Linked DNA regions of Homo sapiens. The protein of the gene in region 1 purifies or fractionates together with the protein of each later gene. This does not show direct contact. Each region holds a gene or a part of one and is shown in the gene's direction. Other genes may lie near its edges. The genes, in order: ZNG1A, AGAP1, TRMT6 and ERF.

The links.
Region 2: the proteins of ZNG1A (region 1) and AGAP1 purify together in Homo sapiens (affinity purification with mass spectrometry; 3 studies listed by BioGRID and IntAct, with this or other methods). This does not show direct contact.
Region 3: the proteins of ZNG1A (region 1) and TRMT6 purify together in Homo sapiens (affinity purification with mass spectrometry; 3 studies listed by BioGRID and IntAct, with this or other methods). This does not show direct contact.
Region 4: the proteins of ZNG1A (region 1) and ERF purify together in Homo sapiens (affinity purification with mass spectrometry; 3 studies listed by BioGRID and IntAct, with this or other methods). This does not show direct contact.

The regions. Positions count from the first base shown.
Region 1 is NC_000009.12:175,218-184,258, reverse strand, and holds the start of ZNG1A (zinc-regulated GTPase metalloprotein activator 1A), read left to right. Parts: upstream 1-5,202; 5' UTR 5,203-5,289; coding exon 5,290-5,443; intron 5,444-6,438; exon of another isoform or gene 6,439-6,490; coding exon of another isoform or gene 6,491-6,536; intron 6,537-8,474; coding exon 8,475-8,561; intron 8,562-9,041. UniProt on the Homo sapiens protein: Zinc chaperone that directly transfers zinc cofactor to target metalloproteins, thereby activating them.
Region 2 is NC_000002.12:236,118,849-236,127,042, forward strand, and holds part of AGAP1 (arf-GAP with GTPase, ANK repeat and PH domain-containing protein 1), read left to right. Parts: intron 1-1,343; coding exon 1,344-1,599; intron 1,600-5,070; coding exon 5,071-5,274; 3' UTR 5,275-8,194. UniProt on the Homo sapiens protein: GTPase-activating protein for ARF1 and, to a lesser extent, ARF5. Directly and specifically regulates the adapter protein 3 (AP-3)-dependent trafficking of proteins in the endosomal-lysosomal system.
Region 3 is NC_000020.11:5,936,293-5,941,292, reverse strand, and holds the end of TRMT6 (tRNA (adenine(58)-N(1))-methyltransferase non-catalytic subunit TRM6), read left to right. Parts: coding exon 1-50; intron 51-153; coding exon 154-240; intron 241-2,566; coding exon 2,567-2,758; 3' UTR 2,759-4,065; downstream 4,066-5,000. UniProt on the Homo sapiens protein: Substrate-binding subunit of tRNA (adenine-N(1)-)-methyltransferase, which catalyzes the formation of N(1)-methyladenine at position 58 (m1A58) in initiator methionyl-tRNA.
Region 4 is NC_000019.10:42,251,691-42,259,753, reverse strand, and holds the start of ERF (ETS domain-containing transcription factor ERF), read left to right. Parts: upstream 1-4,625; 5' UTR 4,626-4,754; coding exon 4,755-4,776; intron 4,777-5,118; exon of another isoform or gene 5,119-5,217; intron 5,218-5,854; exon of another isoform or gene 5,855-5,912; intron 5,913-8,063. UniProt on the Homo sapiens protein: Potent transcriptional repressor that binds to the H1 element of the Ets2 promoter. May regulate other genes involved in cellular proliferation.

The DNA.
Region 1 (9,041 bases):
CTTAGATCAGGAGTTGGGAATCTATAGCCTGCTACCATTTATTGTGTAGCCTGCAAATGGTTTTTACATTTTTAATACATTGGAAAAAAAATTAAAGAAGATTATTATTTCGTGATGTGAAAATTATACATGTTGAAAGGAAAACTTTAGAGTTTAATTGAGTAAAGAATGATCTGTGAATTAGGCAGCCCCCAGAACCAGAGTAGGGTTGGTTACAGCTGAGCATTTGCCTTATTTGAACCTGGTTTGAAGAGTTGGCTGCCTGTGGTTGGCTGAAGTTCAGCTGCTGTGATTGGCTGAGACTCACTACTTGTTACAAGAGTAGGTTACATATCAAGTTTTACATATCAAGTTGAAATATAGTTTTTTATGTACTGGGAAACCTTTAGGGTAAACTTAAAATATGTAAGGAGGCAGCTTTAGGCCACAATGAATTTAACAATTCCTCCTTTTGGTCAACCTGTCAATTTTGAGAGGATGATTAATTTTGAGGTTGCCCAAAACTTTAGGCATTGACATCACTTTTTATCATCATAAATAGAGTTATTTGGTCTCTAATCCCATTGGAAAATAGCAGAACACTGGATTTTGTAAGGTGGGAACAAGGAAACAGTATAGAAAAAAAAAAAACTGATTGGTTAACATCAGATTACTTTTTTATTTTTTTGTCACCCAGGATGGAGTGCAGTGGCACAATCTTGGCTCACTGCAACGTCACCTTTTGGGTTCAAGCAATTCTTCTGCCTCAACCTCCCGAGTAGCTGGGACTACAGGCGTGTGCCACCACACCCAGCTAATTTTTGTATTTTTAGTATAGATGGGGTTTTGCCACGTTGGCCAAGCTGATCTCAAGCTCCTGACCTCAGGTGATCCACCCGCCCTGGCTTTCCAAAGTGCTGGGATTACAGGCATGAGCCACTGTGTCTGGCTGAGATTGCTTTTTTGTAAGTAATCTGTTGTTACTTTGGGTTACTTTTCTGTAAGGGATAGAGCAGAGAGGACTTCCTTATTATACTGGAATCTTCTGTCTTCAGGAGAAGAAAAAAAACTCGTCTATTTTGGGACCTGTTTTTTAACGTTTTAGTTTGATTTTGTGGTGCTTACCATGAGTGACTCCATTTTGGTTTGGTCTGGTCTGCTTGGGATTAGTGCAGGAGCTCAGTCCAAAACAATGGCCTCTCATAATTTTGTTTAATACATGAAATTCAAATTTCAAACTTGTAGACATTTGCTCTCTCTCTTATATTATATAAGTACCTACACAATGTCCTCAAATTTGCTTTTTGATCTGTAAAGACTAAGATATTTATCATCTAGTTTTACAGAAAAGTTTGCAGATCTTCTGGTTTAAAAGAGCAGGAGATTTAGTGTCAGGCAGGTTTGGATTGAGCCCAAGGGCTGCCATTTACTGATTGTATGACTTTGAGCAAGGTATTTATCTTTTCTAAGCCTCAATTTCCTCATCTATAAAATGGGCACACAAATAGTATTTACCTTGGAGAGTTAAATGGGATAATGCATTTAATGTGCTTCACACAGTGCCTATCAGATGCTTACGGGCTCCACACATTACTATTGTTGTTGTTGTTGTTTTACCGTAAAGTAAATGAGACAAAATAGCAAAGCTAAATGAGGAGGAATTTTTAAGTTACATCAGAAACTGTAATAGATTCTAAAATATTATAATTAAGAAATTTCATACTTATTTAAAAAGGCATTTTCAATTTAACAATTTAACAATTTAACCCTCTTATAAGTTAAAAAAAAAAAAAAAAAAGCCCGGCACAGTGGCTCACGCCTGTAATCCCAGCTCTTTAGGAGGCTGAGGTGGATGGATCAGGAGGTCAGGAGTTCAAGACCAGCCTGGGTAACGTGGTGAAACCTCGTCTCTACTAAAAATACAAAAATTAGCTGGGCGTGGTGGTGCATACCTGTAATCCCAGCTACTCAGGAGGCTGAGGCAGGAGAATCACTTGAACCCGGAGGCAGAGGTTTCAGTGAGCCAAGATCGTGCCACTGCACTCCAGCCTCAGCAACAGATCAAGACTCCATCTCAAAAAGAAAAAAGAAATAAAAATAAAAAGTCATGCCCAGCTATTTTGGGAGAACTGAAATTACAACTCTATCTGAGAAAATAAAATGACAGGACTCCACAGAATCCATAGATAAAAATTTAACTGAAGAGGAATATGGAACAGACTAAAGGAAAAATTTTATCAAGCTGTAATCTTTATACTTGTGCCTGAGGCCAGAACTTGAAACTGCTGAAGACAGTGTTTCTCTACAAATGTACACAGGCACCCCATTTTGATGCACAGATAGGTGTTTATTTCTTTTAAGAATAGCAGCTTTATTGAGATAAATTTCACATATGATACAGTTCACCAATTTAAAGTGTACAAGTCAATGGTTTTCAGTATAATCAGAGTTGTACTACCATCACCATAATCAATTTTAGAACATTTTCATCACTGCCCAAAAACCACTGTAGTCTCTCCCCAGCCCTCCACTCCTGGGAACCATTAATGCACTTTCTGTCTCTATAGATTTGCCTATTTTGGATATTTTATGTAAATGGGATCATACAACGTGTGGTCTTTTGTGAATAGCCTTTTTCACTTACCATAATGTTTTCAAGATTGGTTCATGTAGTAGCAGGTATCAGTCCTTTTTCCTGTTTATTGCCAAATAATTTTCCATTGTACGGATAGATCATATTTTGTTTATCCATTTGTCACATTTTAGTTGTCTATCAGTTGATAGATATTTGTGGTGCATTTAATTTTTGGCCAATGTGTAAAACTTATTTTGCTGTCACTGAGGCTACATACTGTTACAACAATGCTATTTGGTCAACTTGACTGAGCTGGCCTCATAGGTTACAGGCTGCTCATTGTTAGAGATGAGACTTTAGACCAGACTGGACAACATAGTGAGACCCTGTCTCTACCAAAAGGAAAAAGAAAAATTAGCCAGATGTAATGGCATATGACTGGAGTCCCAGCTACTTGGGAGGCTGAGATGGGAGGATCACCTGAGCCCAGGAGTTTAGGACTGCAGTGAGCTGTGATCGTGCCAATGCAATCCATGCTGGGCGACAGAGTGAGACCCTGTCTCAAAAAACAGAAAGAGGGATTTTAGTATAACATTCAGCCAGTGCCATATTGGGAACCCACAAGAATGTACTTTAAAAAATATGTCAAAGAAGGTGGTGAGGGCTGTAATAGCTGCTATTCAGGCAGTAATGCAGTGCTGAAGGGACATCAAGCAAATAGTGTGATGCCTGTGGGTGCAATGTTACTCCTTCCCTTAGGTTGCCAAAAAAATCAATACTTCATAGCATTCCTGAAACGAAAAAGCTTATGAACCATTGTGTTTAGGGTGTAAGCTATCTATTTTGGGCTACCCATCACAGCTTCTCTCCTTTGGTAGAATAAAGTGAACTGAACCACCACGCCTAAGGTATTTGCCTTATTTCTTCCTCAGCTGGTTCATGGTTACATTGTCAAAGCTGGCAAAGCATTCAAGACCTGATTTCTCAGACCGAGTGTATGTGTGAATATAATATACTCATTTGCACAAATATAAACCCTCTGTCTTAACTGTGTTCTGCAAAAGGCGTGATAAATACTTTCAAGTTATATGTCCTTATCAGTAGAACTAATGGAATACACACAGTATATTTTATGGGGAATTTCAGAGAAGGAAGGAAAAGTCAACCTTTTATTTGGCATCAGGATAGTAGTAAAACATTCTACTTGTGCATCAGATAGATTTTTATGACCTAACCTGGACAAGTAACTTAACTCTTGGTGCCTCATGTTTGAAAGAGGGATAACACTCTACAGGGTCATTCTAAGAATTAAATATTGCCAAAACACATGAAAAGATTCTCAACCTTGTTAGTAATCAAGGAAATGCAAATGAAGATCACAATGAAGTCTTCTTTTGTACACAATTGATTGGTGAAAAATGCATGCCTGATAATATTGACCTACAGACCAATGAGATCTCTTATAATTTGCTGGGAAAATGTATCAATTTGTACAAACATTTTGAAAAATAATTGTGCATTTTCTTGTGAAGTAAAACATTTGAATAATCTAGGACCCAGCAATTCAACTCTTACACAGACACTCAAGAGGAAGTTGCACACACATATATCAGGAAAAATGTTCATAGCAGCCCTGTTCATAAGAGCAAAACCTGGAACAATTGAGAGGAAATGAATAAATTGCCGTGTAGCCACACAATAGAATACAAGACAGCAGTGATGCTGAAAAGTATAGCAAGCCTCAGGAGTTTATATATTATATGGATAATTTTATGAAGCTCAAAAACACCCAAAATTAAACAACATATTCTCTAAGTACGTACGTGGGATATGTGATAAAATTAAAAAGAAAACAGGGAATGATCAGCAATCCAGAACCAATTCATGACTGTTGTTACTATCTTATGGGGCAGGCTGTGGATTGGAAGCAGGGGCGGTGCACATAGGTACGTGTAACTTACTGGTAATGCTTTTACGTTAGGAATGACGTCAAAGGAGTTCACTATAAATTTATATTAGAAAGAAGGGCTATCTATGGATTAGTGATGAGAGTGTCATGCACCAGCAAATATGATTAATGAACTTAGGTTACCTGAGGTCCAAATAAATAATGAGAAAAAAGTAAATAAAAGTGATGCATGAATACTAAAAATTTGGAATTACATATATAATATGTAATAATAAAAAAAGAAAAAAGTGTCACTGGTTATCCTTCAGGTATAAAAATTACAATTAAAATTATAATGTTATAACCTTCCATTCTTTCCCCTATGAATTAAAACTTTTTTTTTTAACGAGACTAAAAAATCAAGGTGATAAAATCTATGCCCTGTGGGAACTGGTTAGGTCAGGCTACCCACTCCAGATTTCCAGCAGACTGGCCTCAGCTCTACCTACAGCCAGTAGCTTATTAAGGCTCTAGGCGCCAGTGACACCTTCAGACAGGTGGTTAGTGCGCCCTAGGGACTCTCCGCAGCGTCGCTCAGGTTCACAGAACACGCCCAGGGGCGTGTCCAGCTGTCGTCGGGGAGAGCCCACCTCCCCGGGGGGTGTGGCTAAGGGGCGAGGCGCTTCTCGTCCAGAGCCCAGGTAATCCGGGCGGGATCAGCGAGCGTCGCGATGTGATGACGTCAGGCCCCGGGCAGGCCGGGAGTGGCGTGCTGGGCGTGCGCGGCTGCGGTACGGCGTGTTGGTCCCAGCGGTTCAGCTGAGGTAGGGACGTGCTGTAGGCCGGAATGTTACCGGCTGTTGGATCTGCGGATGAGGAGGAGGATCCTGCGGAGGAGGATTGTCCTGAATTGGTTCCCATTGAGACGACGCAAAGCGAGGAGGAGGAAAAGTCTGGCCTCGGCGCCAAGATCCCAGTCACAATTATCACCGGGTATTTAGGTAACTAACCATCCCAGTCACAAAATGGCGTGACCTCTGGTGTCATGGGATTTTGCGGGCTGCCGGTGCCTCTTCTCCTGAGGCATTGGGGCCTCATGATCAAGAGCAAATGTCTTCGAGGTCGGGGCTGGGTCACTTGCTTCTCGTATGGGTTGCCTCTCATCTTGGGAGTTAATGATGCCCGGCCCCCTCTGCGTTAGATTCCCATTTCTCAAGTGAGATGGAAAGTTAGCCTTTGAAGCAAGGCTTTGACGCTAAGACACGCCCCCCTAATTGTCTCTGTGACCTCTTACCAAGTTATCTTACCTTCCTGACGCTCATCTACCTCACCTGAAAATGGAGAAATACCTGTCACCTGTGAAACAGGGCCGGAACCACCTACCTGTTGCCATTAAAGGATGTCCCGTCTGTAAAATGCCCGACACGTGGGGCTTTCGTCAGTAGATTCCCCTTCCCCACGAGCCAGAGTCCTCCAGCCAGCTGGCAGGGAGCGCTCCTATCTTAAACACTTTTTTTTTGAGGTCTGTTTGTAAACCACTGCGTAGGAAGTAAGAATAAAATCTCTGTCCTCCAAGACTATTTCTCAAACTAAGAACGTTTAGAGTGTACAGGGATACTCGAAACCACAAGTTTGTGAACTTGGTAGTTTCGTGAAGGGCGGTTTATGCACTTACACTAGAAGTTTCTTACTGGAAAAGTTTGAGAAATATATTTTTAAACCTTACAGTTAAATAGAAGGGCTAGAACAAATATATGGCTGTATTAGAAGTTTGGAAAAAGTTAAGAAATATAAATAAAATACTGTTTCCGGGAAATAATATTCCTAGTTGTTGCTAGAGACAGGTACAGACTTGGGCCACTTCGTGACCTTTTATGTAAAAATAAGAAATAACTGCTTTTGTTTTTTTTAAAAACTTTGTAGACTGTAAGTTTATTCCCGTTTTTTGCTCGGAAGTAATTTTATAAAGGAATTTATTTTTGGCGTTTCCCCACAGTTATTCAGAGGCTGCTCTGCTGAGAAGATGAACAAATTTCTTGTCCAAAACAATGTATTTCAAACGTGCCGCTCGGGCCTTTCCCGTATTGCTCACTGGTAGGTCAGTAGATCACTGGAGAAAATGATCTGAAGCTCAGGAGTGAGAATTAATACCAGCAACCTTGTTGCTGAATCTAGGGATAGTTTCACTCCTATCCCTGACCATTTTCCCTTTTTGAAACGCTGTTCTTTTGGCTTCTACTACATTTTTCTTCTGATTTTTCCACCTGCTTCTCTGGCTTCTTTTTAAGGCTCCCTCCTCCTTCCCCCTTTGTCCATCTTTAGCTACACACCTGTGTAATTTCTATTTTGATGTCCTACAACTTAAAACTTAACATGTCTGAAACTTCGTCTGTTACCATCCCCCCAAATCCTGCTTCTGTGATCCCAACCATTTGGAATACTCTAAAAGCCTCCTGACTAATCTGGAGTCTTGCTGCCCTTTAATTTATTCGTTGCATGTTAGCCTTAATGATCTTTATAAATGTCAATCCGACTGCGTCACACCTTTCAGTGGCATCCCTATGGGTTAAAATCCAAATTCCTTAACATGAATTACAAGGACCTGTAGGATCTGGATCTTGCCAACCTTTCCAGCCTGCCAAATTGGCCCCGCACAATGAACTAATGTTACTTCAAAGGTGCCAAGTGTTTTAGCCCCTTGGAATAGGTACTTTTTTACTGTGACTCCTCTGGCTAGATGTCCCTCTTAGGTTCTCCATAGCAATTTGTGCATCTCCTATTGAATATGTCACCCTGTGACATAATTGCCTCCTTATTCACTGAATTCCCCTCCATTCCCCCCTTCCCTTGATATTTCTAAGCTCTATGAAGGCAGAGACTATCTTGTTCACTTTTTCACCAAGGCCCAGCATAAATTTGTAACGTATTAGAAACCTTCGAATGAATGAGCTATGTCTTAAAGTGTTTTTTTTTTTCATAATATGGTTAAAAAGCCCTAGTAAATCTTCTCTTAGAAGATTTCTTACATTCACCCTTTCCTTTCAGTTTTCACATCACTGCCCTGTGAAACACTCATGTTCAGGGCCTCTGTCTCAGGCTTGGACTGGTTTTAAGATTTTCCTCATTGCCCTAAGTCTCTCTCTTCCATTCTATACTTCATATTTTTGTGATGTTGAGCTTCCTAAAGTACTCTAAATATAAGCCTTCATCTGTTAAAAAGCTTTGAAAGGAATATGACCTAAAAGATATTAATACCCTAATACTCCGTAAAATCTTCCTAGTTATAGGAAGATCTAGTTATATACTAGAAAACTTAATGTATTTCAGAAGACATGTATAGCCTACATGTAAAAGTTTTTAGCAGCACTGTAATAGTAAAACACTGGAAACAAACCAAATGTCCAACAAAAAAAAAAGATAAAGAAATGATATAGTCATACAATTGAACTACAATACTATGCAGTTAGGATTTTCTTTTTTTCCTCTATGAATTTTAGTGTGTACGGTTCACAAGACTATTTTTTTTCTACTGGAGATTGACATATTGGGTTTTATATGCCACCTGCTGGATAAAGTTGGTATAGCTTTATGAATTTATCTTACTGAACATTCTGTCCATTGTTGACACTACCTGGCTCTATTCCCCATTTCATAAAAACTTTTATAGATTGTTTAAAGCATACTATAAGTAGCCATATAGTCAGCCTGAAGTTGCGTCTTGTTAATGTTGAAATAAAAGGTCATTATAAATAAAAGATTGTGTGTAAATTTTAGGGAAGGTTAGGCTAGGTTGAAGAAGCTGTTTCAACTTGTAGGAGTGTTTGTAAATATTTATAAAATTTTATGTCTACATAAAGTATTTTGCAACAGGTTTCGAAGGATGCTTTAATCTTATCCTCTAGGATATTCTATGCTAAAATAATATATGAAAAATAGCACGCAAATTCTCAAAAACGTTAGGATTCTTTATATGTTTTTTGTATCTTTAAAATTATTTTGAATTTTTTTATTTACAAAAAATATGTTTTATAGGTGCTGGGAAGACAACACTTCTGAACTATATTTTGACAGAGCAACATAGTAAAAGAGTAGCGGTCATTTTAAATGAATTTGGGGAAGGTAAGTAAAGTTCAATAAATGTCATGTTGCAAGATTTTGTGTGACTGTTTATTCCTCTGGTGAATTGATATTCCATATTTAAAAATGAAAATGCAAGGTATTGTATTGATGTGGATAGCTTTAGAAAAGTTGGATTAATTTCTGTTAAGATTTATATGGGTTGAGATACTGAAATTAGTTTTAATAAAATTTTATTTTGTATAACTTTGGAATTCTTATTAACAGAATTAAACTACATTTTTACATGAAATAAATGACTCCAGAAGTAAAAATCTAGACATATGAAAAAACGTTTATTTTTTATTTTATTTTATTTTTTTTGAGATGGAGTCTCTCTCTGTCGCCAGGCTGGAGTGCAGTGGTGCAATCTCAGCTCACTGCCACCTCTGTCTCCTGGGTTAAAGTGATTCTCCTGCCTCAGCCTCCTGAGTAGCTGGGACTACAGGCGTGCGCCACCATGCCCAGATAATTTTTGTATTT
Region 2 (8,194 bases), on another chromosome or scaffold:
TCTAGCGGTGCTGCAGAGTCTTGAGTTTTCAGTATCTGTCACGCTCTTTTTTGAGAAACCAGAAACCATCATCAGTAGCCACAAAGTACAGGAGCTGCTCGCCTGGGGTCCTTCCTTTGGGTCAACATAAACATGCCTTACTGTTGGTTTCCTCTTCTATTTGTTAAGCTTCTCATCTCATCCTGTCCTCTCCTTCTTAGCCCTCCCCACAGATGTGTAGCAGGGTCCCCATCCTCTGTAGACCCCCCAGGAGGAGACCATGTATTACACTGGCCAGGTCGGGCAGCCCCATCTCAGCCAGGTTGTGATGCTGGGGCCGGGGCGGGCAGGCATCAGCATCATCCACTCTCCACACCTCCGACCCCATCCACCCCCTCCCCAGCTTTGTCCTCTCCTCTGCCTCTGGGCTCAGCTCTGGCTTCTGGGAGCTACCTGCCTGTTTCCCAGGCCCTGGAACAGTTTCCCCCAAAAAACTCAGCCATTCCTGACATTCTGTCCTTTCCACTTAAGCCTTCCCCAAGTATCTGGAGATTCCAAAAGCTGCATCTCCCTGCTAAACCTCCTCATTGGAGTCTCCACCCTCTCCTGCGTGAGTCTGTTGCCATGTTTTCCTCAGCTGAAAGGGTTTGGAGACCCTGGGGAGTCCACACACACCCCCTATTTCGGAGTTTGAAGCTAAAAGCACATGGTCACCCCCAGGTGTGGGGAGCGCACCGGCTGTCCCTTCCCCCCACCCCCGGCCCAGCTCCAGCCAAGTGTCCTATAGCCCTCACTTACAGTCCTGCTTACAGTAAAGCAACTCTCGGCCCCAGAGACCATGCTTCCATCGTGCGGTCCGTGCTCTCGGCCCCGGAGACCGTGCTTCCATCGTGCTGGTCCCAGGCAGTAGGGTGGTTTCCCCTGTGCATCGGTGTGTGAGAGCCACTGATCCAAGGCCATGGCCTTGAGCCCTCACTTGGTAGTTTTCTTTCCAAGGACAGCTTCTACACTAAAAGTGACAGAAGCAGCACCAAGGCAGTGTATGAGCCTGAGATCAGCGGCTCTCACACCTTGGGCCTATTGGAATCCCCTGCAGGGCTTCTTAAAACACCCCGAGAGGTTTGGATTCAGGGGGTCTGGGGCGTGACCTGAGAATCTGCATTTCTGGGCTGATGCTGCTGGTGAGGATACTGTTTTGTGAAGGTGGATAAACGTTTCCCCCAGGGGGCTTTGTGCCGAGTGAAGACCTTTGCTTTCTGTTATTTCACTTCCCTCTCGGCTTCTCCCGACCACACTGGGCAGGGGCTGGCAGCCTGTGTTCTCGGGCCTGATCGTGACTGCACCTGTCTGGTGGCTCTTTGCAGGGAAGAGAAGGAACGGTGGATCCGTGCCAAGTACGAGCAGAAGCTCTTCCTGGCCCCGCTGCCCTGCACGGAGCTGTCCCTGGGCCAGCACCTGCTGCGGGCCACCGCCGACGAGGACCTGCGGACGGCCATCCTGCTGCTGGCACACGGCTCCCGGGACGAGGTGAACGAGACCTGCGGGGAGGGAGACGGCCGCACGGCGCTGCATCTGGCCTGCCGCAAGGGGAATGTGGTCCTGGCGCAGCTCCTGATCTGGGTAGGTGGTCGGCACGCCTGGCAGAGGACGGGGCCACAGGAGGCACTCTCTGCTTTGTTCTGCTTCCGTGGGCATCTTTCTGGCAGAAGGCTGTTGTTCTCGATCTGCAAGTGGAAACAGTTCCTAATGGGAAACTCTGATTGAAGAGCAGAGGGCCTTACGGAGAGACAGCCGGTCCTCCTTGTACAGTACTTGCTAGAGTTTCTGAAAATTGCAACTTTGTGATTGCCCCTTATCAAGCAGGGTTGGTGCTATCCCTCTTTTTTCATTTCCATCATCTTCTGGAGAGAAGGCGGTGTATTAACGGGATGGCTTGTAGGGTTTCCCCATTTCCAAACCTTTGGTGTTTTTATTCACTTAACACAGAAATACTGGACCCTAAACTTTGAGGTCTGATGTGGCAGGAGTTTGTCAAAGGACTTCTTTCGAACCATTCTGATTAATTTCTACTGGGGAAAAGTATTATTTACATTCCTATTGAAGCATGTGTCACAATGCTTGAAGGAGTGAAAGAGAAGGATAAAGTGGTTGTGCAGAGAGGCCCTGCCTGTGCCACCCAGGAGCTACGTCTGAGAAGCCACGCCCACTTAGGGGCTGCCTGTGGACCCCTGGGGCTTCTGCTGAGGCAGGTTCCCACCAGAGGCAGGCAGAAAGCTGCCGGCAGGGAGGCTCCCCAGATAGGGAAGGCAAGTGTGTGCCCAGAAGTGGAGACAGCACCCAGAGGTGGGACACCCAGCTGGAGGCTCTTCTGTCTCCACCCGCAAGGCAGGATGGGTCAGTCCAGCACAGCAGCACGTTCTACAGCAGCATGGGTAGAGTGCAGCAGGTTTCTGCATGTTTTTGATCTGACTTTTTTGTTTTTTGTTTTTTTGAGACAGAGTCTCGCTCTGTCACCCAGGCTGGAGTGCAGTGGTGCGATCTCAGCTCACTGCAACCTCCGCCTCCCAGGTTCAAGCAATTCTCCTGCCTCAGCCTCCCAGGAAGCTGGGATTACAGGTGCGCACCACCACGCCCAGCTAATTTTTGTATTTTTAGTAGAGACGGGGCTTCACCATGTTGGTCAGTCTGGTCTCGAGCTCCTGACCTCGTGATCCACCCGCCTCGGCCTCCCAAAGTGCTGGGAGTACAGGCATGACCCACCACGCCCAGCCTTGATCTGACTTTTTTGATGGGTGCAGTTGGTGAATGAGTGAGATATAGACACTACACCAAAATCACACAGATACTCCCTTTTGCTCATGAGTCATACATGTGATGTAATGCACATTAAATAAGAGTTGTGTGTAGTGTGCTAGGGCTGCCATAACAAAATACCACAGACAGGGGTGCTTCAACAACAGACATTTATTTTTTCACAGTTCTGGAGGCTGGAAGTACAAGATCAAAGGGCCAGCAGGAATGGTTCCTGGCGAGGCCTCTCTCACGGCTGGTAGACGGCCGCCCTCTCCCTATGTTCTCACAGGGCCTTTCCTCTGCACTCGCTCCTGGTAGCTCTCTCCTTTCCCCCCACCCCCTTCTTTTTGGGACAAAGTCTTGCTCTGTCGTCCAGGCTGGAGTGCAGTGGCACAATCATAGCCCACTGTAACCTCAAACTCCTGGGCTCAAGCAATCCCCCCACCCTAGCCTCCCAAGTAATTGGGACCACAGGCATGCCACCCCCATGAATGGCAGTTTTTAAAAAATTTTGTAGACTTACGTTCTTACCATATTGCCCATGGGTTTTGAACTCCTGCCTTTAAGCAGTCCTCTCACCTCGGCCTCCCAAGGTGTTGAGATTACAGGTATCAGCCTCCCAGCCCAGCCTTTTCCTCTTCTCATATAGATACTAACCCTATTGTGACCTCATTTAAGCTAATACACCACCATAAAGGCTCTGTCTCCAAATACAGTCACATTCTAAAGTACTGGGTGTCAGGACTTAAACATGTGAATTGTTGGTGGGAGCGGGGGACACAGTTATAAATTACAGGCCATCTTTGCTTCTCCAATTGAGCAAAAATTCCTTTGATGGCGCTGGTTCCATGCTGTTGAGTGGCCTCAGACTCCCACACATTGTGAGTTGGCAGAAGTGGAAGTGAATTCACTCTTTTTCATGAGCAAAAAGCTTAAAAACGTTGTGTACTTTAACCTCATATTTTCCCCCTTCTGATCATCACTCTAATAATCAATCACAGATCCTAAGAAAGATTCTATGTGAGGACATACATCCGGGCACTGTTTCTTCCAGTGACAATTTTTTTTTTTTTTTTTTTTGAGACAGAGTCTCACTCTGTCTCCCGGGCTGGAGTGCAGTGGCACGATCTCGGCTCACTGCAACCTCTGCCTCCCGGGTTCAAGCAATTCTCCTGCCTCAGCCTCCTGACACTAGCTGGGATTACAAGCGTACACCACCATGCCCAGATAATTTCTGTATTTTTAGTAGAGACGAGGTTTCACCATGTTGGTCAGTCTGGTCTCAAACTCCTGACCTTGTGATCCGCCCTCCTCGGCCTCCCAAAGTGCTGGGATTCCAGGCATGAGCCACCGTGTCCGGCTCCAGTGACAATTTTTACAAAGTGTGCACAGTTGAGGGGAGAGTTCTGAATTCTGTTCATGTGGTGGAATACTGTATGACTTGCATATGTCATGCTTTTTGAGGGGTGGGGAGACAGGGTCTCACTCTGTTGCCCAGGCTGGAGTGCAGTGGTGTGATGTCGGCCCACGGCAGCCTCTGCCTCCTAGGCTCAAGCGATCCTCCCACCTCAGCCTCCTGCATAGCTGGGACCACAGGCATATGCCACGTGCCCAGCTAATTTTTTTAAAATGTGTTTTTTTCTAGAGACAGGGTCTCCCAGTATTGCTCAGGCTAGTCTTGAACTCCTGGGCTGAAGTGAACCACCGCACCCAGCTTGTGTTGTGCTTCTGAGTAATTTTTAATGATGTAAGAAAATGATCACAGTATAGTAATCAATAAAAAATGAAAAAAATACAAATTATTTGTACAGTCTTATCTCAATTATGTACATATACATGTAGATTCAAAGAAAACTCATTGAAAGGAAATACACTAATTCACAAAGGTTATCTCTAAGTAGTAAGATTATGGGTGATTTTTTTTCTTCTTGAGCTGTTATGTGTTATTTGTGTATTTCCTATAATGAAAATTCTGAGATCAAAACAATGATTTTCTTTGTGCAATTGGAAAGTCAAAATAGAAACAGCAAAACTAAAGTTATCTTTGATTCCTTAATGTTGCACAAAGGAGGGGCTTTCAGTTGAAAAAAAAAGACATGTTCTTTCCTTAAAAGAATCCGCTGGCCACGGGTGCAGGCTGTGCCACCAGCACTGGATGGTCCTGGCACCCCAGCCAGTTGTGTAGCTGGCCCCGCTGTCCAAGCACAAGCCACATGCAAGGGCTGAGAGAAAGCTTCCCTGCCCCCTCCCTCCATCACATCCCCCATGATACTAATGTGGGCTCCCTTACCTCCGCAGTACGGAGTGGACGTCACGGCCCGAGATGCCCACGGGAACACAGCTCTGGCCTACGCCCGGCAGGCCTCCAGCCAGGAGTGCATCGACGTGCTGCTGCAGTACGGCTGCCCCGACGAGCGCTTCGTGCTCATGGCCACCCCTAACCTGTCCAGGAGAAACAATAACCGGAACAACAGCAGTGGGAGGGTGCCCACCATCATCTGAGGAACAGCCGTGCCCGCCTGCTCGCCGCACCTGGGACGCGGCAGCCTCGCCGCATTCTCGCTCAGAAGTCGCAGCACGTGAGTCCCGTCGCATCCCCTCCCTCTTCCTGGTGGCCACCTCCCTCCCGCCCACCCACTCTCACCCCAAACAAAATCACAAAACCTGGACATCCCTCAAGGGGCGAAGAGGCGGCCGGGAGACTGCAGAAGTGGCTCCTTTTCATAAACTCCCCTAAACCACACACAGGAGAGAGCGACGGGCCTCGGCCCTTTGATGATAGCACATGGCGCAGGACCCTTGTCCTGGTGGCACAAGGGATGGGGACGCGAGGGGGAGGGGAGGCGAGGAACAAGGAGAAGGGGCAACTTTCCTTAACTGGCAGTTGAGCACATAGTACATTTCCCCTCTACCAAACGGAACACTTGGATTCCATCTCTTCTCTGAGGAGCTCGACGGCATAAATCAGAAGCAAGCACAGAGTTTGTCAGGTTTGAAGCCCCTATGATGGTGTGTGTCAAATCAGTTGTAGCTAATCTGTCCAGGGAGAATACTGGCTTCATTACACTTGTACAGCCGAGTTCTTCCCGCATTACTGCTGTTTAATAGAACGTGATTAGTCATCGCCGAGAAGAAAGCATATTAGCCGAGGAGGTAGTCACGCGGCACGCGCCGGTGATTGCCACGATGTGATTGCAATACTCTTAGAAGCACCATATTATCCCAGACATGTTCTTTCAAGCCCTTGGAGCCCTCTCTAAATTCACTGTCATCATTTAGTATCTGTTTAATTTTTCAGTCCAAAGAGAGGAAATCAGTCGCTGAGTATTATTTGACTCCGGTCTCCTTGGTGCAAAAACAAAATGGGAAAAATAAATAAGAATAACTCAGAAACTCAAAAGGAAACCACAAATTCAGCTAATAATAGCATTTCGAGTATATTTCGTAAACTAAGGAAATACACAAAAGGCTGTTTTTTCCGACTGTAAGAGATATTTGATGTCCTTTTGCCGAGGTGGATGTGTTAGTCTCAGGCCCTCCTGGACCACGTTGCCCAAGTCACACAGGCTTCTGTGTTATGTATTTAGATAAGATGTGTGAAAATATATTTGAATAAAAGAAGTTCATAAATATGCATTGATTTTTGTACAGACAAATGGCACCTCTCTTAATTTATAAATTGAACTGGATGTGAACTAATAATGTGCAACTAGTTGAGATAAGAGGGTTACAGATCATTGTACATGGAAAATATTCCCAGCAGTAAACACTTCCATTAATGTGATCTACGGCTTTTGAAAAGGAGCATCTCAGAATAAGATGGTGGTACAATTTGCTTATTAAAATTGAGAAAGAAAAAAAAAGACACACTGGAGTATATTAGAAAGGAAAAAGAAGGAATGTGGTCTCTCATGATTGAAAGCATGATTTAGATCGGATACGGCTTTTGCTAACCAAGGACCAAGGGACTCTGGCAAGATGGGGTGGTTTTCCGAATGCCAGACCGAGGTGCCTTACGAAGGCAGCTGCCAATGGTTCTGTGGCACAGACTGGCTCCTGAGAACCCAGACGACCTTGACCTGGCAGCCCGGCCCTCCACGCTAGTACCTCGCCTGATTTTCCATCGTTGCGGTATCCAGCCGCTTCAGACGTCCGCCGCCTTCAGTGGTGGTAGTCAAATGTAGTCAACCAAACCACAGCATCCCTTAGGTTAAAAGCAAACGGGGCAGCTTTGCCTAGAGCTCATTGACAGTGTGATGGGGGGAGAAGGGTTGTCACAATGGAAGATGAGGACACTAGACTCATGTAGCACAGAAACATGAAGCCACACGCACCGGCAGCCTCCGGGGTGTTCCTCGCTCTCTCGTATGTTAAACCTTATATTTTATAAGAGTTTTTCCTCTTATTTCACTTTTTAAAAAAAATTAAAGTAGGTGGGGAAAAAAATAAAGCTTTACACAGAATTTATATGTGGGTAAGTGTTTCATGGAAATTTCTAATCTTAACGAAGCTAAGTGGAGCTCACTCGTATCCAAAAGTATAACAGGTGCAGAAGCCACAAGTCTGAGAACCTTGACGACAGTTCCATCGTCCTGCCATTTGATTTTTCAGTCTGCGTTTCATCACTGTGTAGCTATTGTAAATGTGAATAGAAAAAAACAGGTCATTGCCTATTTTTGAAGAACGCGTTGGTGTTCGAGTCCACTAGACACACTCGCTCCACACAGCCTTCACCGTAGACTCTGTAGTGGACACAGATATAGCATAAATGAAATTGTTAAATTATTTCATTGTAGTTAATTCCCACTATAGGAATGCTTTATCATAGTGAAGTTTCTTTTGAGAAGAAACGGAACTCCTTGAGGCTTCTCTTTGGGATGTATATGAGCGTGTACATATTATTCTATGTGTTTATAATATAATATTTTCCCAAATGACTTCTTGTTTCACTTTGCCTTCCACAACCTGAATGCCAGATTGGTTTTTTCCCTTCCTGGCCCCCAGCACAAGCTGCCATGACTCCCCCTCAGAAAACACAGCCCCTCCTCTACCATTCTCAGTGATGTCCATCTGCTCCACTCCGCAGCCACTTTCTAGGGCCCAAGTTTTGGTAGCAGAAGGAAAGGCAGTTTTTGAGGGTCTTTCGAAAAAAAGAAGACGGGGCAGCTTTGCCCAGAGCTCGTTGGCAGTCTGTTTGTATTTCAGTGTCTAACCAGAAGTCCTTTCTTTGCGGACCGCACTCTCGTTCCCACTTTCAAGCTAATTACCACCAAGGCTGGGAGAGGCAAGGACTGGGGGCGGAGCTAGGAATAACTCGTTTGAGAAGGGGGTGGAGTTTTCGTTGTTCATTTCCATGTTCAGTTCTGTGACGTGACGATGACAGATCACCACTGCAGGATCCCCCTCACCTTTCCTGTTCAGA
Region 3 (5,000 bases), on another chromosome or scaffold:
ACTTTGTGGCCCCTTCAAGGCCGTTTGTGGTCTACTGTCAGTACAAAGAGGTAATACTGGAATGGAATGGGCAGGAATTCTTATGTCTGAATGTTGATTCTTAAACTGCATCCCAGGAAGTAGTTCTTAACAGAATTCTGTTGTTGTCTGCAGCCTCTGTTGGAATGCTACACAAAACTGCGGGAGAGGGGAGGGGTCATCAACCTCAGGCTGTCTGAAACCTGGCTCAGAAATTATCAGGTACGTGTTCTTACAGCCAGTCCCAAGAGCTGCCCTCCCGAGACTTGACTTTCCTTGCAGTAGTACTAGAAGTCATTAAATAGAGTTATCTCAGCCAGGCACAGTGGCTTATGCCTGTAATCCCAGCACTTTGGGAGGCCAAGGCAGGCAGATCGCTTGAGCCCAGGAGTTCAAGACCAGCTTGGGCAACATGGTGAAACCCTGTCTCTACAAAAAAAAATACATAAATTGGCTGGGCATGACCCTGTATCTACAAAAAATATAAAAATCAGTCGAGCATGGTGGCAGGTGCCTGTAGTCCCAGCTACTCAGGAGCTGAGGTGGAAAGATTGCTTGAACCCTGGAGGTCGAGGCTGCAGTGAGCCGAGATCCCACCACTGCACTCCAGCCTGGGTGACAGAGTAAGACCCTCTCTCAAAAACAAAACAAAATAAAAATAGAGATGTCTCTGTTTCTTTCTACAGGGATGGAGATTTCTCATGGCTGTTACTCAGAGAATATGCCCCTGACTTTTTGTGACCCTTTTTTTCTCTTGTTATGTCAGAATATATTACTCTGTAACTCTGCCCTAAAGGCATTTAAAATGCAAACCATTATGGTTCTTATTTCCCCAAGGCCTCAGTATCACTGTGGATGATGTAATTGACAATAGCAAAATTCCCAGGTGGATGAGAAACTGGCCCTTTCCTCTCTGCCAGGATGTTTTTGCAGCAAGTTTTCAGGATTTACTGGTGGGCTCTGTGTCAGTTCAGGTCTTCTGGAAGACATATGCTAAGATGGAAGTTGAAGTGTAAGAGATTTATTGAGGGAAATGCCTTAGAAAGATAAGGGGAGAGGGAGCAAGATTGGTGGTGCAGGTTGATGCCTGGGCAAGGAGCGGGTAGAGAAAGGAGGATGGTAGGAAGAGCCTGCAGTGCTGCTCTGGAGAAAGTCTCCATGAGGCTGATGGCGAGCCCAAGTGGAAAGATCGCCATTCAAGGAGCCCTGTGTTAAGCAGAAATGCTCCAGCTCTGGTACCCATGCTCAGTTACTGACTGGAAGCAACCCATGGCCTCCCTCGGTATGAATGCTGCAGTGGATCCCAAAGGAGCGGCAGCTGGAGGTGTTCTACTGCCTGAATGCCTCTCAGCTGTTCCCTCATGAAGGGAGATCTGAGGGGAGCACCTCCATGCTGCCGTAGGCCCCGTCTCATTGCTTGGTGTCTTACCATACTGTAGTGGGGATGCTATTGAGCCTTGGGTAACCCTGCCCTTTGTGGAGGTTGTCTGTCTTGGCTAAGGTTACAGGAGAAAGAGGAGAGAAGTTGCCTTGGCAGAGTTAACAGGGTAGCGGGGAAGGGAGGTTTGGAGTGTAGTACATTCAGTAGCAACTTCTCCATAGACCCAAGCTCCATTATTGGCCATGAAGCTTCCTGAAGCCAGGAGAAAGAAAGCTATATGCACAGTTCTAGAGTACTGCCAAGACCATTACCCATTCTCCGCCAGAAACATGCTTCAGTTTCTAGATAAACCTGGGCTGAACTGAAAACTGCTTCAGTTCTTTTTCTTCTCTTTTTTTTTTTTTTTTCATTTTTGAGACAGAGTCTCGCTCTGTCGCCCAGGTGGGGTGCAGTGGCGCGATCTTGGCTCACTGCAACCTCTGCCTCCCGGGTTCAAGCAATTCTCCTGCCTCAGCCTCCCGAGTAGCTGGCATTACAGCTGTGTGCCACCACGCCTGGCTAATTTTTGTATTTTTAGTAGAGATGGGGTTTCACCATGTTAGCCAGGCTGATCTCAAACTCCTGACCTTGTGATCCACCTGCCTCAGCATCCCAAAGTGCTGGGATTACAGGCGTGAGCCACCATTCCCGGCCAGTTTTATTTTTCAAAAGAAAATCAATTAAACCAATTTCTACACTTTTCTTTGCATTGTAATGTGAAGAAATTAGTCCTTAGAAGTTGGTCCATTTAAAGCCTGGTGCCGTGGCTCGTATCTGTAATCCCAGCACTTTGGAAAGCCAAAGTGGGAGGTTCACTTGAGGCCAGGAGTTCGAGGTTACAGTGAGCCAAAATCTCACTACTGCACTCCAGCCTGAGGAACAGTGAGACCCTGCCTCTTAAAAAGAAAGAGAGAGAGAGAAAGGAAGGAAGGGAGGGAGGAAGGAAGGGAAGGAAGGAAGGAAGGGAGAGAGGGAGGGAGGGAGGGAAAAGAAAAGAAAGAAAAAAAAATGTCCATTTAAATCATCAAGAGAACCTGTGTTGTTTAAATTCTGATTTTTGGTATATGTGTTGTTAGCATGGACTTTATTGTCTTAGGAAAGCATGAATGTCTTTTCTGTCTTGATTAGGTTTTGCCAGATCGAAGTCATCCTAAACTGCTGATGAGTGGAGGTGGGGGTTATCTTCTCTCCGGCTTCACCGTTGCCATGGACAACCTTAAAGCAGACACCAGCCTCAAATCTAATGCAAGCACTTTAGAATCACACGAGACTGAGGAGCCTGCAGCTAAAAAACGAAAATGCCCAGAGTCTGACTCTTAACCCTTTTGAGAATTGCTCTGAATTTTGTTCTCAGGCATTATACAGTTAGTAATTAAACTTTAAATGCCATTACTACTTGTTTTTTCATATCCCAAGAATAAGAACATGTCTATGTACCCGTTTCTAGGAAGGAGGAGTATATGCCTTTTGTCTATTTCTGACACAGATGCATTTGGTCTGTCAAAACTGCAACCATGGGGTATGTAGTATGACCAACTGCATTTAACAAAACTCCTCTAAGTACTTCTAAATATTCTGTGCAAATATCTTGAGAACTTCAACATCCTAAAAATGTGTTTCTACAAGACTTTATATTTTAAGCTAAGTGGAATAATACAACGTAACTAAAACATGGCGGGTACCGAAAGGAGGGCAATTCATGGAAGAAATTTCCTCTGTTCATTCCGTTCTCTTCAACCTAAGCAATATGGATGTGTGAGTGTGTGATTTATTATGGTACCAAAAATGTCCACCTTCTTTCCTGCAGCGGAATAAGCTTTTTTGAAATGCTGAGGTTTTATTTTAATAGTTGACAACCTGGGAAAGTTCTGAGTATTTATTTTACTGCTCTTTTTTGTGCATAGAAAGGTTTAGTAGGGTACTTTTTTGCATTAATTTGCCAATACTCTTATTCTTTGTTCTAAATAAAGTGACTAGAATTTTTGTGTACTATTCAATTAAAGGAAACAAATGTCTTTTCCCCCTCTATGGTCTTATGGATACACATTTGCACACACACACATATGTATATAGATGTTGGTATATATACACACATATATTTATATATACACAGATATATACATACACATGCAAGTGGAGACATAGATTGTACCACCTGTATGAATATGTATGTACACATGGGGACAGAAAGAGTGTGCAGTCTATTTGAACTGTATCAAAGTCTTGTGCAGGACTTAGACCAATTCTCATTGTATTAGTGTCATTCCTTGTCAAATGTCCCTAAAGTGCCTTTCTTGATTATTAATGCTGAAGAACTCTGTCATGATTAGATGGTTACCCTTTCTAAGCTCTGAAAAACTCTAATCATTTGATCATGTGCTGTAGCAAAGAAAGTGTTTAGAATCAGCCAAGGCTCTTGTTCATTTGAGAGATTGAGTCTTGCTCACTGGAACATGGTCATCGTTTGCGTTGCTCCTGTCATAGAATAGGCCTGTATCATACAGCAAGGAACATCTCAGAAAAAAAATTTTTTTTCCAAATAGCATGTGCTATGCCAATGTGATTACTAAGTACAATTTTGAGTCCTTTATCCTAATTGCTATTAAAGAATAAAAATGTCGGCCGGGCACAGTGGCTCATGCCTGTAATCCCAACACTTTGGGAGGCCCAGGCAGGCGGATCACCTGAGGTCAGGGGTTCAAGATCAGCCTGACAAACATGTTGAAACCCCATCTCTACTAAAAATTAGAAAATTAGCCATGCGTGGTGGCTAACGCCTGTAATCCCAGCTACTTGGGAGGCTGAGGCAGGAGAACCGCTTGAACCCGGGAGGCAGAGGTTGCAGTGAGCCGACATCACGCCATTGCACTCCAGCCTGGGCGACGAGTGAAACTGTCTCAAAAAATAAATAAAAATGAAAATGTTTCCTACTGTGATTCTTCTAACAGTGATGCAGTCAGTGATGTCCTGTGGGCTTTCGGCCGATTGTGACGTGGTCTGTCTATTGTAGAGGACATGCCTGGATTGGCACCTCACGGAGTGTGTTGCAAGCTGGTGTCACACACACATGTAGCTAATCAAGTTTGGACAAGGAGAACAGAAAACTGCATAGATTAGAATCAGTAGTGGCTGGTCTCCTGGTTACTGGTTTGCAAGTTGCATTCCGTTCCCTAAATCTTTTCTCTTGAGTTTCTTGAGCAAGGGGTCTGGGGTCTGAGCTACCAAGGCCCTGCATGCTCATGTTACCTTGTGAACTCATCTTACCAATGCCAACAGCATAAGTTAATCTGTATTTTTTTTTTTTCTCATTCATATAGTTTACTTAATCTGCGTACAGATGATTGAATTCTGTGGTTTGCAAACTTAGCATTGGAAAACTTAGATTCCCCTGGAGGGCTTGGTAAGCAGAGGCCACTGGGCCCTCCACCCCACAGAATAAGATTTCAGTACTTCTGGAGTGGTACAGAGCATTTGCATTTCAAGTAGTTTCCAGGTGATATTGGTGCTGTTGGTCCAGGAACCGCCCACTGGGAACCACGACTGTGTGCATGCACATCATGGG
Region 4 (8,063 bases), on another chromosome or scaffold:
AAAAAAAAAATAAATAAATTTTTTGTAGAGAGAGTCTCACTCTGTTGCCCAGGCTGGTCTTGAACTCCTGGCCTCTTGAAATTCTCCTGCTTCGGCCTCCCAAAGTGCTGGGATTACATGTGTCAGACACAAACTGCAGCCAGCCTGTTTATTGCTGTTTACTCTAACTGTTGTTACAGTTGGAGTCTGTAGGGTAGAGTGCTCTTGTTATCCATGGGGCATAGAGTTCACTCTGCTAATAATTATTAACAGTATTTATTGCATACTTACTTTGCATCTCTGATTTTTCTTTTTTTCTTTTTTTTTTTTTTTTAAGACGGAGTATCGCCCTGTCACTCAGGCTGGAGTGCAATGGCATGATCTCGGCTCACTGCAACCTCCGCCTCCCGGGTTCAAATGATTCTCCTGCCTTAGCCTCCTGAGTAGCTAGGATTACAGGCGCCAGCCACCACGCCCAGCTAATTTTTGTATTTTTAATAGAGACGGGTTTTCACCATGTTGGCCAGGATGGTCTGGAACTCCTGACCTCAGGTGATCCACCTGCCTCGGCCTCACAAAGTGCTGGGATTACAGGTGTGAGCCACCTCGCCTGGCCACATCTCTGATTTTTCACAATAACTTGATCATGTAGGATCTATTAACACCTCCATTTTACAAATGAGGAAAATTGAGGCTCAAAGAGGTGAACTTGGCCAGGCGCAGTGGCTCACGCCTGTAATCCCAGCACTTTGGGAGGCCAAGGAGGGCGGATCACGAGGTCAGGAGATCGAGACCATTCTGGCTAACACGGTGAAATCCCGTCTCTACTAAAAATACACAAAATTAGCTGGGCGTGATGGCGGGTGCCTGTAGTCCCAGCTACTCGGGAGGCTGAGGCAGGAGAATGGCGTGAACCCGGGAGGCGGAGCTTACAGTGAGCCGAGATAGCGCCACTGCAGTCTGGCCTGGGCGAAAGAGCGAGACTCCATCTCAAAAAAAAAAAAAAAAAAAAAGAGGTGAACTTCGCTAGGCAGGGTGACTCACACCTGTAATTCCAGCACTCTGGGAGGCCAAGGTGGGCGGATCGTTTGAGCCCAGGAGTTGGAGACTATCCTGGTCAACACAGAGAGACCCCAACTCCACTAAAAATAAAAAAAAATTAGCTGGGTTGGCTGGGCATGGTGGCTCACGCCTGTAATCCCAGCACTTTGGGATGCTGAGGCGGGTGGATCATCTGAGGTCAGGAGTTCAAAACCAGCCTGACCAACATGGAAAAACCCCGTCTCTACTAAAAATACAAATTAGCTGGGCGTGGTGGCGCATGCCTGTAATCCTAGCTACTCGGGAGGCTGAGGCAGGAGAATTGCTTGAACCCAGGAGACGGAGGTTGCGATGTGCCAAGATGGTGTCACTGCACTCCAGCCTGGGCAAGGAGAGCAAAACTGCGTCTCAAAAAAAAAAAAAAAAAAAAAAAGCTGGGCATGGTGGTGGGCGCTTGTAATTCCAGCTACTCAGGAGGCTGAGACAGGAAAATTGCTTGAACCAGGGAGGCAGAGGTTGCAGTGGGCCAAGATCGTGCCATTGCACTTACAGCCTGGGTGACAAGAGCAAAATTCCATCTCAAAAAAAAAAAAAAGTAACTGGGCATGGTGGCATGTGTCTGTAGTCCCAGCTACTCAGGAGGCTGAAGTGGGAGAATTGCTTGAGGCAGGGAAGTCGAGGCTGTAGTGAGCCATTATTGTGCCACTGCAATCCAGCCTGGGCAACACAGTGAGACCCCCATCTCAAAAAAAAAAAAAAAAAAAAAAAGAGGTGAACTGAGTTCACTTGCCTTGTCAGAGACAAGAAGTAGCAAAGGTTGGGTGTAACAGCCAGGTGTGGTGGCTCACACATGTAATCCCAGCACTTTGGGAGGCTGAGGCTGGCGGATCACGAGGTCAGAAGATTGAGACCATCCTGGCTAACACGGTGAAACCCTGTCTCTACTAAAAATACAAAAGATTAGCCGGGCGTGGTGGGGGGCGCCTGTAGTCCCAGCTACTCAGTAGGCTGAGGCAGGAGAATGGCGTGAACCCGGGAGGCGGAGCTTGCAGTGAGCCGAGATGGGGCCACTGCACTCCACCCTGGACGACAGAGTGAGACTCCGTCTCAAAAAAAAAAAAAAAAGGTTGGGTGTAACTCATCTCTGTCTTGCTGGTGGGAGGGTAGGGGTCACTGGGTTTGTTACTGATGTGTTATCTTTTTGTTTGTTTGTTTGTTTTGAAACTGAGTTTCGCTCTTGTTGCCCAGGCTGGAGTGCAATGGCGCGATCTCAGCTCACCGCAACCAACCCCCTCCCGGGTTCAAGCGATTCTACCTTAGCCTCCCGAGCAGCTGGGATTACAGACATGCACCACCAAGCCCGGCTAATTTTTTGTATTTTTAGTAGGGACGGGGTTTCTCCATGTTGGTCAGGCTGGTCTCGAACTACAGACCTCAGGTGATCCACCTGCCTCGGCCTCCCAAAGTGCTGGGATTACAGGCGTGAGCTACCGCGCCCAGCCTTTTTATTTATTTATTTTTAGACGGAGTTTTGCTGTTACCCAGGGTGGAGTGCAGCGGAGCGATCTCGGCTCACTACAGCCTCCGCCTCCTGGATTCAAGCGATCCTCCTGGGTTCAAGCGATTCTCCTGCCTCAGCCTCCTGAGTAGCCGGGATTACAGGTGCGCCACCACGCCTGGCAAATTTCTGTACTTTTAGTAGAGATGGGGTTTCACCATGTTGGCCAGGCTGGTCTGGAACTTCTGACCTGAAGTGATCTCCCGCCTCGGCTCCCAAAGTGCTAGGTTTACAGGCGTGCGCCACTGCGCCGGGCCCTGATGTAGTATCTTTGAAAATCTGCATTTTTTTTTTTTTGGAGGGGGTAGTAAAAGAGGTAATAAAGCATAATGGTAAAGGGTAAATGTGGTGGTTTGGAATTGGTTAGATCTGGGTTCGAATCTTAGTTCCAATACTTCCTGGCTGTAAGATTTAGTGGACTGATTTTCCCTCAGAGAGCATCACTTTCTTTATCTGTAAATGGGGATAACAGCAGTAATTCCCCTCGTTGGGATTTTGTGAGGATTAAATGAGAAGATGCCCCTGACAATGCTTGGCCCGGTGCCTGGCACATCATGAACACTCGGAATTCGGGAGCTGTTATTCGAACAATGAAGATGATTATTATTGCTGGACCACACCGCTCCCAGAGGGTTACAATATCCGTGGGGGAGCTGTACTGTCCGTAGGCAAGGTTACATAATTCCCGGGGGTTGTGGGGGAAAGCTTCCCTGGAGCCCTTGGTCTCCCCAAGGAGGAGGCCTGAGACTTTTTTTTTTAGGCACTGGTGAGGAGCCTGTCTAAGGTGGACTAGGTACCCCGCAAGCGAGGAGGCTGGGATTGAAGCCCTGGGTACCGGGAGCCTGAGCTCCGCAGGCCTTCCCTATCTGTGACTTTTCTGTCTCCCCGCCCATCTTCTGGATTCGTCCCCCACCCAGCCCCCCCAACTCCCGCCCGCCACCCATACGCCCCTCCTTCGGAACCTCAGAGTCTTTTTTGAGACTCTGTTTCCAGGCTATGCCTGTGAATATTGCTTCTATTTGGCCTCTACCCTGCTGCCGGCTCCTGGGCTCCATCAGATCTGCGCTGTGATTTCCTGTTTCCCAGAGCCTCAGGCTTCATCCTTCCCTCCCGGCTGAGGCAGAGAACGGAGACTTAACACTTCTCTACGCTCTGGCTTTCGATCTTAAGCCCTGTCTTCCTCTCTCCTGGCGACCCTCAGTGCCCCTTGGGAGCACATTTGTTCAGACTTTGGTCGCCCCCTCGTATCCCGGCCCCGCCTCCGGAACCCCCGGTCCTAGTAGTGGACGTGGGGGGACCTCCGGCGCCAGCCCTATCCCCGGGACAGCTGCAGCCTGGGGACGGTGGTGGTGGGGGCTTCCAAATGCATTCTCTCTGGTCACTTCCTCCCCAGCTGGACGGGGGTTATCAGGGAAGCCAAGACCCCATCCCCACAGGAGCGGAGGGCACAGCCGCCTCCCCATTTCCGATGCTGGGAAATGCATCCCACCCATTCCACCCCACCCCTGGACAGCTGCCCCCATTCAGGCTCAGGGTTGGGGGGTTGGGTAAAACCAAGCTGGGAAATGCTGTGGTCTTCATCATCTTCTAAGGTCCTGACCCCGCCCCTCTGCAGAGAAGATTCTGCCCCCTCCCCACAAAAGTTTCTGACCCCCGCTTCCTCGGAAGGGCCCCCCGTTTTCCCATACAGGCTCCCAAAAGAAACTCTGGAGCCCGCAGTGGGCAGGAGAGGAGGAGGGGCAGCAGGTAGCGAGTGCCGAAGACTTAAGTTAGCTGCAGACTCGGAGCCTCTGACTAGGGTCATGACCCGCGGGACCCCATCCCACCCCCACCCCCTCCTTCCTCCCTCCCCCGCCGCGCGGCCCCTTTAAGCCCAGAGCCGGCCGGTCCTCAGTGGCTGCGCGCCGACGAGCGTGTGTGTGAGTGCGCGGGGAGGGGGCGGGCGCAGTGTCTCCATGGCGACGCGGCGGTGACGTCGCCGGCCGGGGGGCGTGGGCGTCCCGGCCCCGGAGTGCGATATTAACCCGGGAGGCGGCGGCGGGGAGGGGAGAGGCTCTGAGAGGCGAGGCCGGGTGAGGCGGCGAGGGCGGCCCGACGGGCGCGGGACGGGACGGGGCAGCGAGGGCGCCGGGAGCCGCGGCCCGGAATCGGGGCGCTTCGCCCCGGGCCCCCCAGCATGAAGACCCCGGCGGACACAGGTGGGGGCGGGGGCAGCACGTGTGGGGGAGACTTGTTGCCCCGGGAAACCGAACGGAGAAACTTTGGGGGGGCTGAAGGGGTCCGGGGGAGCCCGAGTGATCCCCAGTTCTGGGGGACCCCTCAAGCACTGGAGACCTGTTGCTTCTCGTGGCGCGAGCGGGGTTGCTGCCTGGGACCCCCGATTCCTGGCTCCGGGCGGAGTGGTGTGGGTGCTGCGGGTCTTGGTCCTGTATCCCTACCGGGACCCCGCAGGCCGGGCTCTCCCCCACTCCCGGGATCACGGGGGTGGCGGGGTCCTTCCCCTCCGCTCTTGTCACGTTGCACTCTGGGGGCCGGGACGTGTGCGGGGCGGGGGGGCTCGTCCACCGGGCCCGCTATCCCTGGTTCTGCGCTGCGCGGTCCTGCTGGTGACCTTCACGGCGGCGCGTGCCCTGCACCAGGTTAGCGGGGGATACGGGATGGCCTCTAGGAGGAGGGCGTGAGTGGGGAGCCCGGGACTCGGGGTCCTGGCTGCGCCGCCCCTCCCCCGCCCGCCTCTGTCGGCTCCTCGCTCCCCCGCCCTCGCCGAGTCGCAAAGTTCCAAAGCGCAGCCCGAACGTTCGAAAAAGGAACTTTTTGTTTCCGACCTTAGAACGCGCGGCTTTAAGGTGGCTCCGGGGAGACCTGGGTACCCTCCTCCCGCGCCACCGGTGGCCCGGGGTTGAGGAGGGTGGGGAAGGTGGGGGGAGACGCAGAGGCTCCCCCCTCGCCCCCCCTCCCGGATCCACCTCTTCTCTTTCAGCGGGCCGTCTCTTCCCTCCGCCCCTCTCTTCCCCGCCAACTTGCTCCTCCTTAAGGGGCCAAGGTTCCCCTCCCCCTCGGTCGGCGGGCGGGGGGCAGCGGGATTAACTCCCCCTCCCACTCGGACTTTTCCCCCTCCCCTCCCCCGCCGCCCCCGGGCTCGCGCGGGCTGGACTTTGCGCCCGAGCGCGCAGGGGGAGGGGTCCCAGCCGCCCCCTGCCCGTCTACCCCGTCGGAATCCGGCCCGGGGCGGGGACGGGGGAGGGGGAAGGGGGCCGGGCGCCGCTGTTCAAACTTGTTTCCTTCCCCCGGCGGCGGCGGCGGCGGCGGCGGCGGCTCGGGCTCCTGTGTGCGGGTGTGTGCCCCGACCGGCCCACCCACCCCACCCCATCCCCACCCCATTCCCACCCCATTCCCATCCCCATCCCCCTGCTCGGCGGGTGGGGGCGGCTTAATCTTAAAGGGCTCCGAGCTGGGATCCGGCGCCAGGGGATTGGGACCCGGACCGAGGAGGGGCCCTGGGGGTGGGGCCGGGGTGCGGAGTGCGGTAGGGTCAGTCACGTGCGTCCTACACACTCCCCCGGCTTCCACTCGCTCCCGGGTGGCTGGGCCCTGGGGGCAGCAGGAGCCTACCCTCGCCCAAGGAGGAGGCCGAGGCACCCAGACAACCTCGCTTCATCTTCTCTCCCTGCTACCGGCCTTGGCCTGATAGGATCCGCGGGTCGCTTCCCCAACCCTGTCGGGGGGCGGGACAGTGTGTGGGTTTTCCGGCTGGGGGAGGGGAGGGGAAGGAGGCCTGGAATGGCCTCCGATCGGTGCATCTTTCCCGTCTGCCTCCTGGCCTGCCGCTCCGCACCCCTCCATCCAGTTCTCCATCCCGGTCCCTCTCTCTGCCGTGGCTGTTTCCCACTTCCTGTTTTCTTCCCGGCTCTGGCGCCATAGAGGGCCGCCTGGAGTGGGGGAGGTGGTGGGGCCCCCCAGGAGGCCGGCGTGTTCTTCCTCTGCCACCACTCCTCCCTTCCGACCCTCATAGTCCCTTAAAAAAAGTTTGGGCCGTCACGTGAGGTTGGGGGGTGCCCAGGAGTTTTGTCCCCCCAGGCTTGCATAGTCTGTCTGGGAGAATCCCTACCCCGCCTCTGTGGGACCCAGGTGTGCTTCTGGGACCTCGCCATCCCAGCCCTTGCTGTCTGACTGCTGCCACTTCTGCACTCTGTCTCGCAGTCTCCTGAACCCCTCTCTCCATGTGCCTGCTCTCTCCCTGCCTCACTGGCCCCCATGTTCCCGAGGTCCCGCACCCCCAAGCTTCCTCCGTGCAGGTCTGGTGTTTCCCTGTTTTAAGCACGTGGACGCATACACAGCACACTCACACATGCTCCCCTTGCCCGTGCCTGGCTCCTGGCTCCAAGGCCTGGGGAACAGAGCCCCATTGAGACACCCTGACGTCACCCCCTCTTCATTCTCCCCCCCCCAAAGCCGGGAACAGGCCTTCATGTATGCTGTGTCCGATGAGGAAAGCCGCCGTTGTGGTGGGCTTGGGAGTGGGGAAGGGTCCCTGCCAGAAGTGGGAGCCAGGGTCCAGGCCCTGGAGGAGGGGTTGCTCAGGGAAGGGGTTTAACAAGGGGGCCTGGGACAGCTCCCAGAATGCGGCTTGAGGCCTTTCCAGAGCCCCCCCACCTCCTTTCCGAGTTCCCTTTGTGTTGCATGTAGTCTCTCTCACTCCCTCTCTTCTGCAAAGTTTATTTTTAGCCTCCTGCTCCCCCGCTCCCAGGACTGTCGCTGCACACACGTTGCCTGGTTACCGGGACACGGAGGCTGGGGCGGGTGGGCTGGGAAGGGTGGCTTTAATTTTGGGGGGAGGGTGGAAGTCAGTACATCCCCCACCCCCAGATTGATGTCTCAGGGGCTTTGGCCCCCCTTCTAGGTCTAGAGCCAGATTGGGGCTGAGGTGGAAGTAACATGGAGCTTGGTTCCCTGAGAGGGGCTGGGAGCTTTTTGGAGGGGATATGAGGGTCCATGAAGCTGGTGGCTGGGTCACCTGGGTTCCAAAGGACCCTGGGCCTTGCAGGAGACCTTGTGATCTGGATTCTCTAGAAGGGTGAGGATAATGGGTTGAACACCTAGATTCCCAAGAGAGCGATGGTGCTCTGGGGTCTCTGGAAGGGGTTGTCAAAGGCTGTCACTTTTAAATGGAACAGGGGCTGTTGGTGCTGGTCTGTGAACAGCTGGAGGTCATATCCCTGGCACCCTGAGGGGCTGGTGGAAGGCTGGGATATATCTGAATGGGGCAGGGACTCCGGGGGCTATGTGGTACTGCAGCCCAGTCTGGGCAGGAGTTGGGGGCCTACAGTGAGCTCTGGATTTGGAGGGGGTGGTCCCTGTGGGAGCAGGAACTACTGATTCCCTGGATTCCCAAGGGGAAGGATCCCTTGTTGGATTCCAGACTTGGGTGGAGTCTTTGAGGGTGGATGTGTTGCCTGGAGGCCTTGTTGGTACCTGTTTGAGCTGG